2 linked regions of the Homo sapiens genome follow. The protein of the gene in region 1 purifies or fractionates together with the protein of each later gene. This does not show direct contact. Each region holds a gene or a part of one and is shown in the gene's direction. Other genes may lie near its edges.

Region 1 (5,056 bases):
AGATGTGTATGTGTGCTAAGGCCCCAGTGCAGAAACAGGTGTGCCTAGGATTGGGACTCTTGGGATGGCTGATGGAGATGCATGATCGGTAGTCATACAGGCATAGAGGCCAGTCATGGGGATGTGGGATTGATTGGTAGAGAGCCAGGACCATTAGGGTAGAGGAATTGAAGACTCTGTGATCAGGTATTGTAGGATGAGTGATGCAGGCCTGGCTCAGGGGCAGCAAGGCATGGAAATCAGTGAATCTGAGGTTTCAGTAATGGCTTCTGGGAGTAGTCTCTGGGCACCAATTGACACTTAGAGCAGATTGAAGAGTGGTAGTGAGGAGTTAGGTACCAGGGTTGATGATAACTTGAAGGGCCTGTGAAATCAGATAGTATAATAACGTAATAGAACAGTATATCCTTTGGATATTTTATAAAGTATTTAAGCAATCCACAATTATTGAATATCTAAACATTTCTAATCTTTCTTTTTTATTAACCATGTTATGGTAAAACTTTTGCACTTAAATCTTTGTACAATATGGGATGGGATGATATTTTAATGTGGTAGTTCCAGAAATAAATTTTTGAGTAAGGTGCAAGGGCACTAAATGATGTATGTGTCCATGTGTGACATTGGCACAGTTCCTTCTCTCATGGGTACCTCTACCCATCTGTTTTCTCAGATTTCTGCCCCTTTGTCCGAAGAGCCAAAAATGACCAAGTCCCTGGTGAGTTCTTATTTGTTCATCTGTTTATTTGTTGCTTTCTTTTACTTTTAGTGGATTTTAGGAGACATCTAACAATCCCTATAGTAAGATGACAAGACTAAATAAATAAAAACTAAGATCAGATAAAATGAAGAAGAGACTGTCAGCCCCAAGTCAAGTTTAGAATATATGGTCTTACACAGTCATGAACTTTGAACTGTTAAATTGTCTCTGATCTTCCTGAAAGACATAGCAATAATGGAAATTGGATACATGGTTTATATTAATAAAATTAACAAGTAATTTATTTCATCTGTAGTAAAGATGTCATGGTTCTTGATGTTTGAGGAATTTTTTGATAGATCTTCAGATGGTTAATGACAGAGCAGTCTTCAACAACAACCCTACTGAAAGTGCACTAACAGGCCAGGCGCGGTGGCTCACACCTGTAGTCCCAGCACTTTGGGAGGTCGAGGCAGGTGGATCACATGAGATCAGGAGTTCCAGACCAACCTGGCCAACAAGGTGAAACCCCGTCTGCACTAAAAATACAAAAATTAGCCAGGTGTGGTGGCGGGCGCCTGTAATCCCAGCTACCCAGGAGGCTGAGGCAGGAGAATTGCTTTAACCCAGGAGGCAGAGGTTGCAGTAAGCCGAGATTGCGCCTTTGCACTCCAGCCTGGGCAACAAGAGCGAAACTCTGTCTCAAAAAAAAAAAAAAAAAAGAAAGAAAGAAAGAACGTGCACTAACAGTTTTTCTGTTGCTGTCTTATAGAACAGTGCTTCTGACACTTTACTTGCATTTGAATTCAGATTCTGATTTAGTAGCTATGGGATGGGATATGAGAATTTTTATTTCTCACAAATTTCCACAGAACATCAATGCTCCTTGTCCAAGGACCACCTTCTGAAACAACCTTGAGGTTTTATCGTGAATGGGAGTTGAATTTTGTTAAATGCTATTTCTGTACCAATTGACATGATCATGTGATTTTACTTCTTGAGTCTGTTGGTATGGTAGATTACATTGATTGATTTTTTAATATTGAACCAGCGTTGCATCCATGGAATAAACTCCACTTGGTTGTGGTATATACTTTTTAAATTATTTGTATTTGCTAATATTTTGTTAAGGGTTTTTGTATCATATTTATGAAGGATATCGCTTTTTTTTTTCTTTCTGTCTCTCTTTCTGTTTTTTCTTTTGGTACTATTTCTGGTTTAGGTATCACGATAACCCTGACCTCATAAAATAAGTTGGAATGTGTTCCTTTGTATTGATTATTCTGCCAGAGATTGTGTATAGTTTGTGTTTTCTTTTTCTATACTTTGTCCAGTTTTTGTGTCAGGGAAATCATAGCCTCACACAATAAACTGGGAAGTATGCCCTTCTCTTCTGTTTTCTGGAAAAAACTGTGTAGAATTTATGTTAATTATGTTAATTCTTCAAATATTTGGTAGAATTCTCCAGAGAAACTGTCTGGGCCTAGAGATTTCTTTTTTGGAAGTTTTAAGATTACAAACTCAGTTTCTTTAAGTGTTACAGGGCTATTCACATTGTCTATTTAATATTGAGAGGGTTGTGGTAGTTTGTGTGTTTTTCAGGAACTGGTCCCTTTCATCTAAGTTGTCAAATTTATGTGTGCAGAGCTGTTAGTAGTTGTCTTAGTCAGCTCAGGCTGCCATAACAAAGTACCATAGACTGGGTGGAATAAACAACAAAAATTTATTTTCTCACAGTTCTGGGAGGCTGGAACTGAGAGATCAGGGTGCAAGTATGGTCAGGTTCTGATGAGGGTTCTCTTCTTGGCTTGTAGACGAAAACCAGATTCTCACTATGTGCTCACAGGCCATTCCCTAGTGACCGCCTGCCTGCCTGCCTGCCTGCCTATGGAGAGAGAATCTCTCTCTGTAAGGCCACCTGTCTTATCAGATTAGGACCCCTACCTTGTTTAACCGTAATTACCTCTTAAAAGCCCTATCTCCAAATACAGTTACATTAGGGGTTACAGCCTAAACATACGAATTTTTGGAGGACTGAGAATGTCTTGATTTCCACATTCTCCTGAAGGATATTTTTGCCTGATCCAAAATTCTAAGTTGATAGTTCTTTTGTTTTTTTTTTTAGCACTTGAAAAATGTGCTACTTCCTTCTGGCCTCCAAAGTTTCTGATGAGATATTAGTTAAAACTGCATGTTAATTTTCTATTGCTGCTGAAATAAATTCAAAAATTTAGTTGCTTAAAAATAACTTTTTTTTTTTTACAGTTCTATATTTTAGAAGGCCAACATGGGTCTCACTGAACTAAAACCAAGGTGTCAAGAGGGCAGTATTCCTTTCTACAGGCTGTAAGAAAGAATCTGTTTCTATTTTCTATGACTTTTCTAGCTTCTAGTGGGTGCCCACATTTCACAATTTGTAGCCCTTTCCTCCAACTTCAAAGCCATCAACATTGTATCTCTCTGACCACTCTTTTGTAGTCTCATCTTTCTCTGACTCTCTTTTATTGCCTCTCCTTTAACTTTTTTTTTTTTTTTTTTTTTTGAGGCAGAGATTTGCTCTTGTTGCCCAGGCTGGAGTGCAATGGCGCGATCTCGGCTCACCGCAACCTGAAAGAATCTGTTTCTATTTTCTGACTTTTCTAGCTTCTAGTGGGTGCTCACATTTCAGTTTGTGGCCCTTTCCTCCAACTTCAAAGCCATCAACATTGTATCTCTCTGACCACTCTTTTGTAGTCGCATCTTTCTCTGACTCTCTTTTATTGCCTCTGCTTTAACTTTTTTTTTTTTTTTTTTTTTTTTTTGAGGCAGAGATTTGCTCTTGTTGCCCAGGCTGTAGTGCAATGGCGCGATCTTGGCTCACTGCAACCTCCGCCTTCCGGGTTCCAGCGATTCTCCTGCCTCACCTTTCCGAGTAGCTGGTATTACAGGCATGTGCCACCACGCCCTGCTAATTTTGTATGTTTTAGTAGAGACGGGGTTTCTCCATGTTGGTCAGGCTGGTCTCAAACTCCCAACCTCAGGCGATCCGCCCGCATTGGCCCTCCCAAAGTATTGGGATTACAGGCATGAGCCACCGCGCCTGGCCCTCCTGCTTTAACTTTTAAGCAAATTTGTGATTATATTCAGCCCACCCAGATAATCTAAGATAATTAATCTTCCTATTTTAAGGACAGCCGATTTAGCCACCTAGATTTGATCTGAAACCTGAATTCCCTTTTGCCATGCAACCTAACATATTCACAATTTCTGGGAATTAGGATGTGAACATCTTTGGGGAGCCATGGTTCTTAGTATCTCACATTGTCATTCAAATTGTTTTTCTCCTGTGGGTAATGTGTAGTTTCTCTCTGAATGCTTTCAGCATTCTTTCTTTGTCTGTATTTTTCACAAGTTTCACTATAATTCTTCCTTAGTGTGAATTTCTTTGGTTTTATCCTTTTTGAGATTTGCCCAGCTTCTATCTGTAAGTGTATATCTTTCGGGAAGTTTCAGAAATTTTCATTCATTATTTCTTCAAATACTTGTTCAGCCCCCATCCCTTTCTCTTCTTTTTCTCTTTCTGGAACTCCAATGACACAAATGTTAGATTTTTTGTTATTGTCCCACATGTCTCTGAGGTTCTGTTCCTTTTTTTCTCAGTCTGTTTTCTCTCCATTCTTTAGATTAGATCATTTCTACTTTATTTTCAGGTACTCAGAATATTTCTTCTGTTGCCTCCATTCTTTTGAGCCCATCTATTGAGTTTTTAATATTGGTTATTTTTTAATTCTAAAATTTTCATTTGGTTTTTTCATCTCTTCTCTATTTCTTTGTTGAAGTTTTTTTGTTTCAAGTGTGTTCATATGCTTGTTAAAACATTTTTATGAGGACTACTTTAAAATCCTTATGAAATAATTCTGATAACATACATCACTTCAGTTTTAGTATCGGTTGATTGGTTGTTTCCTTATTCAAGTTGAGATTTTCCTGGTTCTTGGTTTTACAAATGATTTTGTAATGTATTGTGGAAACCTTGGGCATTATGAGACTCTAGATCTTATTTGAGTCCTCTTTTTTAGCAGGCGTCCTCTGGGCCAGTGTGGGAATTGGGGGGCCTTGCTGTACTACTGCCAGGTGGATGTGAATTTGCAGGTTCCCTACTTGAACTCTGTTGACAGTCTGTGGGGAGAGAGACACCTCATTACTGCTAGTTGGGGTTGGCAGTTCAGGCTCCCCAGTAGACCTCTGGTGACATCACCTTGTCTGAAAGGAGAGGGTACCTTGTTTCTGCTCTTCATGCTGTCTTCTCTGATATTGTTAGGTTGGATAGGGCCTCATTACCTCTCAGAGTGATGAAGGTCTTGGGTTTTCATTTGA
Region 2 (4,528 bases), on another chromosome or scaffold:
AGTGGGGACTGATCAGTGACCAGTTTCCTTGGAATTAAAAGTAACTACTAACCTTTAACAGTTTCAGTAGAATGGTGATGAGATAGAGATTATTCATTCAGGAAAGGAAAGAGAGAAATAGGTAACCTGATTGGGAAGTAATGTCAAGAAAATATGTTTCAGGATTATTGAAAATTGAGCGTTCTTTTGTTTTTTTTTTTTTTTTTGAGACAGTTTCACTCTGTCACCCAGGCTGGAGTGCAGTGGCGCAATCTCAACTCACTGCAATCTCTGCTCTCGGGTTCATGCCATTCTTCTGCTTCAGCCTCCTGAGTAGCTGGGACTACAGGTGCCCGCCACCACGCCGGGCTAATTTTTTTTTTTTGTATTTTTAGTAGAGACCCGGTTTCACCGTATTAGCCAGGATGGTCTCAATCTCCTGACTTGAGATCTGCCCGCCTCGGCCTCCTAAAGTGCTGGGATTACAGGCATGAGCCACCGCACCTGGCCAAGCGTTTGTTAACCAAGGACAAGAAGCTAGTGGAGAGGGAAGGACTGAGGGAGGGAGGTATCTGAAGAGAGGCATCAAGTGATGAGAACTGAAGAACAGTTGGACTGTTTAACTGTGCAAAAGAATAAAGACATATTTTCCCTGGGGGGGATAATTGAAGGAGATAAAAATAGATGGGTTCATAGATTATTTTGGCATTGGCGGAATGGAGGAAAGTTTTAGTATATGTTTGATGAATTTTTTTTTTTTTGCTGAAATAGATTTAGTCCTCTAGAGTGGTTGCCTTTTCAAGGTGGTTGTCATATTGAAAGTAGCACTTGTTGATAAGTGAGAGACATTTTTAAAACTATACCAGTCGTCAGAAAGATTTCCTGAGAGTATTGCTCTGCCACATACAGATTGTATGATCTTGAGTAAAAAGTCAACTGTTTGGGTCTTACAGTCTTCTCCTGGCTTTGCTTAGTTTTCTGTATTCCTTGCCCACATTAAAATGGTTATTATCCTTTGAATGATGATACTGAATGTATCATTTTAGCTTCATAATTCCGTGACCATTGCGCAATACTCAGTCTTTTTGTAGGTGTCTGTGGCCAAAATGTGAGCCATCGTTAAACCTGTAGATAGTCATTGTGGTTTCTTAATGTCTGTTAATGTTAATTGAAAAGCAATACTTAGTTAAAGGGTTAGTGCTGAATTGTTGTAACAGAAAGTACAATAAGTACTCAAAAGTAAGTAGGAATCTTAAGTGCATTTTAAATGTGCATGTATTTGGCTGGGCACAGTGGCTCATGCCTGTAGAGTCGCAGCACTTTGGGAGGCCGAGGCAGGAGGATTGCTTGAGACCAGGAGTTCAAGACCAGCTTGGGCAATGTAGTGAGACCCTGTCTCTACAAAAAATGAAAAAATTAGTCAGGTGTGGTGGTGTGCACCTGTAGTCCTAGCCACTTGGGAGGTTGAGACAGAAGAATTGATTGAGCCCAGGAGTTTGAGGTTATGGTAAGCTGTGATCACTACACTACATTCCAGCCTGGGCAACAGAGTGAGATTCTGTCCCAAAAAGGGGGGTGGGGGGGAGGAGGGGGATAGAAATATTATTTTAGTCATTGTCACTTCACCCTACACACAAATTTCACTAGTTTGTATCAGACTACATCTTGGTTTTGATGTCTGCTTTTTCATACCTGTCTAAAATATTGCAGACCTTTATTATCTTTAATAAGCTAATAGGCAAAAGTATGTTATTGTTGCTTTTTCTTTATTTTTTAGTTTAAGTATGTTTTCATAAATTTACTAGCCATTTGGATTTTTTGTGTTTCTTTATGCTTTTCTGTTTTTCTAATACATGTCTCTCCGATAAATTATTTGTAAGTATATCTTAAATTCCACGTGTCTTAGTCTGTTAGAACTGCTGTAACTACCATGAACCGGGTAGCTTATAAGCAATAGAAATCTACTCTTGGCAATTCTGGAGGCTGGGAAGTCCAAAATCAAGGTGCTGCAAGATTAGGTATCTCAGGGCCCTATTCCTAGACCACAATCTTTTAACCCCATGTGGCTGAATGAGTGAGGGGTCTCTTGGGCCTCTTTTATAAGGGCACTAATCCCATTCATGAGTGCTCTGCCCCCATCACCTAATACCCCTTCCTCCCTCCAGCAAATGTCACCTCCTAATACCATTACCATAATGGTTAAGATTTCAACATACCGTTTTGGGGAGTGGGGCACAAACAGACCATAGCACCCCCTTTGTTGTTTGCCATAGAAAAATTTTAGATTTTTATGTGGTCACCTTGTTCATCCTTTCCTCTAAGTCTTCTGCATTCCGCATTACCACACTATAAATATACTCATTCATATTTTCCTCTAGTATGTCTGTTAATTTTAAAAATTATGATAAAATACACATAAGAAAATTTACCATCTCAACCATTTTTAAGTGTACAGTTCAGTACATTCAGTTCAATACATATACATTGTCATGCAACTATTCTCCAGCACTCTTTTCATCTTGTGAAACTGAAACTCTTTATGCATTGAACAACTACTCCTCATTTCTGATTCCCCCAGCCCCCGGCAACTACCGTTTACGTTGTCTTTTTATGAATTTGACTATTCTAAGTATCTCATTAAAGTGGAATCATCACTTAGCATAACATCCCCAGGATCCATCCATGTTGTAGCATATATCAGAATTTCCTTCCTTTTTAAGACTGAATAATATTTCACTGTGTGTATATACACATTTTGTTTATCCATTCATCCATCAATGGGCACTTGGATTGCCTCCACATCTTGGCTGTTTGAATTGTATTGCAGTAAACATGAATGTGTAAATATTCTCTTTGAAACCCTGCTTTCAGTTCTTTTGGTTGTATACCCAGAAGTGGTATTGCTGGATCATATAGTAATTCTATTTTTAATTTTTTGCGGAACCTCCATACCGTTTTCCATAGGTGCTCCACCATTTTACATTTCTGCCAACAGTGTGGTGGGTTCCAGTTTCTCCACATCCTCTCCAACCTTGTTATTTCCTGTGTTTTTGATAATAGCCAACATAATGGACATGAGTTTGTATCTCACTTTGGGTTTCGTGTTGATTTTTAACTTTAAATCTCCTCTGAATTTTATTTCATTATAGGGACTAAAGAAAGGGTGATATCGTTTTCTCCTTTGTTCATTATTCACCAGTTACTAGTCAGTTTTTCATTTATTGAAAAATCCTTTTTCTTACATTAAAATGTCATCATTATAGTCTAAAATTCCCATGTTTGTTTGCATCTTTGGGTCTGTTAATCTGTTCCTCTAATCTTAATTTACCAGATTATTTTAATTTTTATAGTGTCATATATATGATGTATCCTAGATTTTGATGTGTTTTTGTTGTTGTTGTTTTCTCTTTGACCTGAAAGTTGTTTAGAAGCCATTTTTATGAGGTTTTGTCTCTTTTTAAAAAATTTCCAACTGGCAGAAATTTTGCTTGCATATTTTTGTTAACATTTACTTCTAATTTCACTGTTTTGTGACCAGAGAATGTGGTCTGTAGTATTTCTTCTTTGGGGGAAATTAACTCAGATTTTCTTTGTGGCCTAATATTTAATTTCTGTAAAAATTCAAGGGTGCTTGGAAAGAAAACATAATCTAAGTACAGATTTAATTATATGTCGAATAATAGATGAGTTTTATTATATCTTTGTTTTTCAAACTGGATCATAAACATTTATTGTGTCATAAAATCAATTTCTTGGGTCCTGACTAAATATGTATAACTACAATTTTTAATGGAGTAGAACAAATAGAAAATTATCAAAGTGTATTGCTTATAGTAAGAGCTGCTCACATTTTCTTTCAGTTACACTTGCAAATCTAACAATCTGTGTGCTTAGTATCATAATCTGAAATATGTCTCTCACAGTGGGTTTCAGTCAAAAATGTTTGAAAAACACTGTTCTACATCTTGTTTATTTTTGTGCTCTTGCTTTATTAAGAGCATAGAGAAAAGTTAATGCTTCATATTTGTCTCTTGACTCTTTGCCTTATATATCCTACAATTTTTATGCATTTCATTATTAGTATGGAGTTGGGATATGTCAGTTATATTTTTATTGTAGGTATAAAGTCTATTATTTAGAAGTCCCTCCTTTAGGTTTAACGCTTTTGCCTTGTTCAGTGTTAATTGCATGACTTTCTTTTCCTTTATGTTTTAATTAATTAATTGTTTTATTTTATTTTTTTTTTGAGATAGAGTGTCACTCTGTCCCCCAGACTGGAGTGCAGTGGCATGATCTCTCTCACTGCAACCCCCACCTCCTGGGCTCCTGAGTAGCTGGGACCTCCTCCTGACTCAGCCTCCTGAGTAGCTGGTACCACAGGCATGCATCACGACGCCCAGCTAATATTTGTATTTTTGGTGGAGACAGGGTTTCACCATGTTGCCCAGGCTGGTCTCAAACTCCTGACCTCAAGTGATCCACCTGCCTTGGCCTCCCAAAGTGTTGGGATTACCGCACCCAGACTCCTTTATGTTTCACCCTTTCTTTT

Evidence for each region. Proteins that work in one complex are often made in the same cells at the same time.
Region 2: the proteins of ZNF484 (region 1) and SMARCAD1 purify together in Homo sapiens (affinity purification with mass spectrometry; one large-scale study listed by BioGRID and IntAct). This does not show direct contact.

Annotation. Positions count from the first base shown.
Region 1 is NC_000009.12:92,870,677-92,875,732, reverse strand, and holds part of ZNF484 (zinc finger protein 484), read left to right. Parts: intron 1-673; coding exon of another isoform or gene 674-703; coding exon 704-718; intron 719-2,965; exon of another isoform or gene 2,966-3,046; intron 3,047-5,056. UniProt on the Homo sapiens protein: May be involved in transcriptional regulation.
Region 2 is NC_000004.12:94,214,077-94,218,604, forward strand, and holds part of SMARCAD1 (SWI/SNF-related matrix-associated actin-dependent regulator of chromatin subfamily A containing DEAD/H box 1), read left to right. Parts: intron 1-4,528. UniProt on the Homo sapiens protein: DNA helicase that possesses intrinsic ATP-dependent nucleosome-remodeling activity and is both required for DNA repair and heterochromatin organization.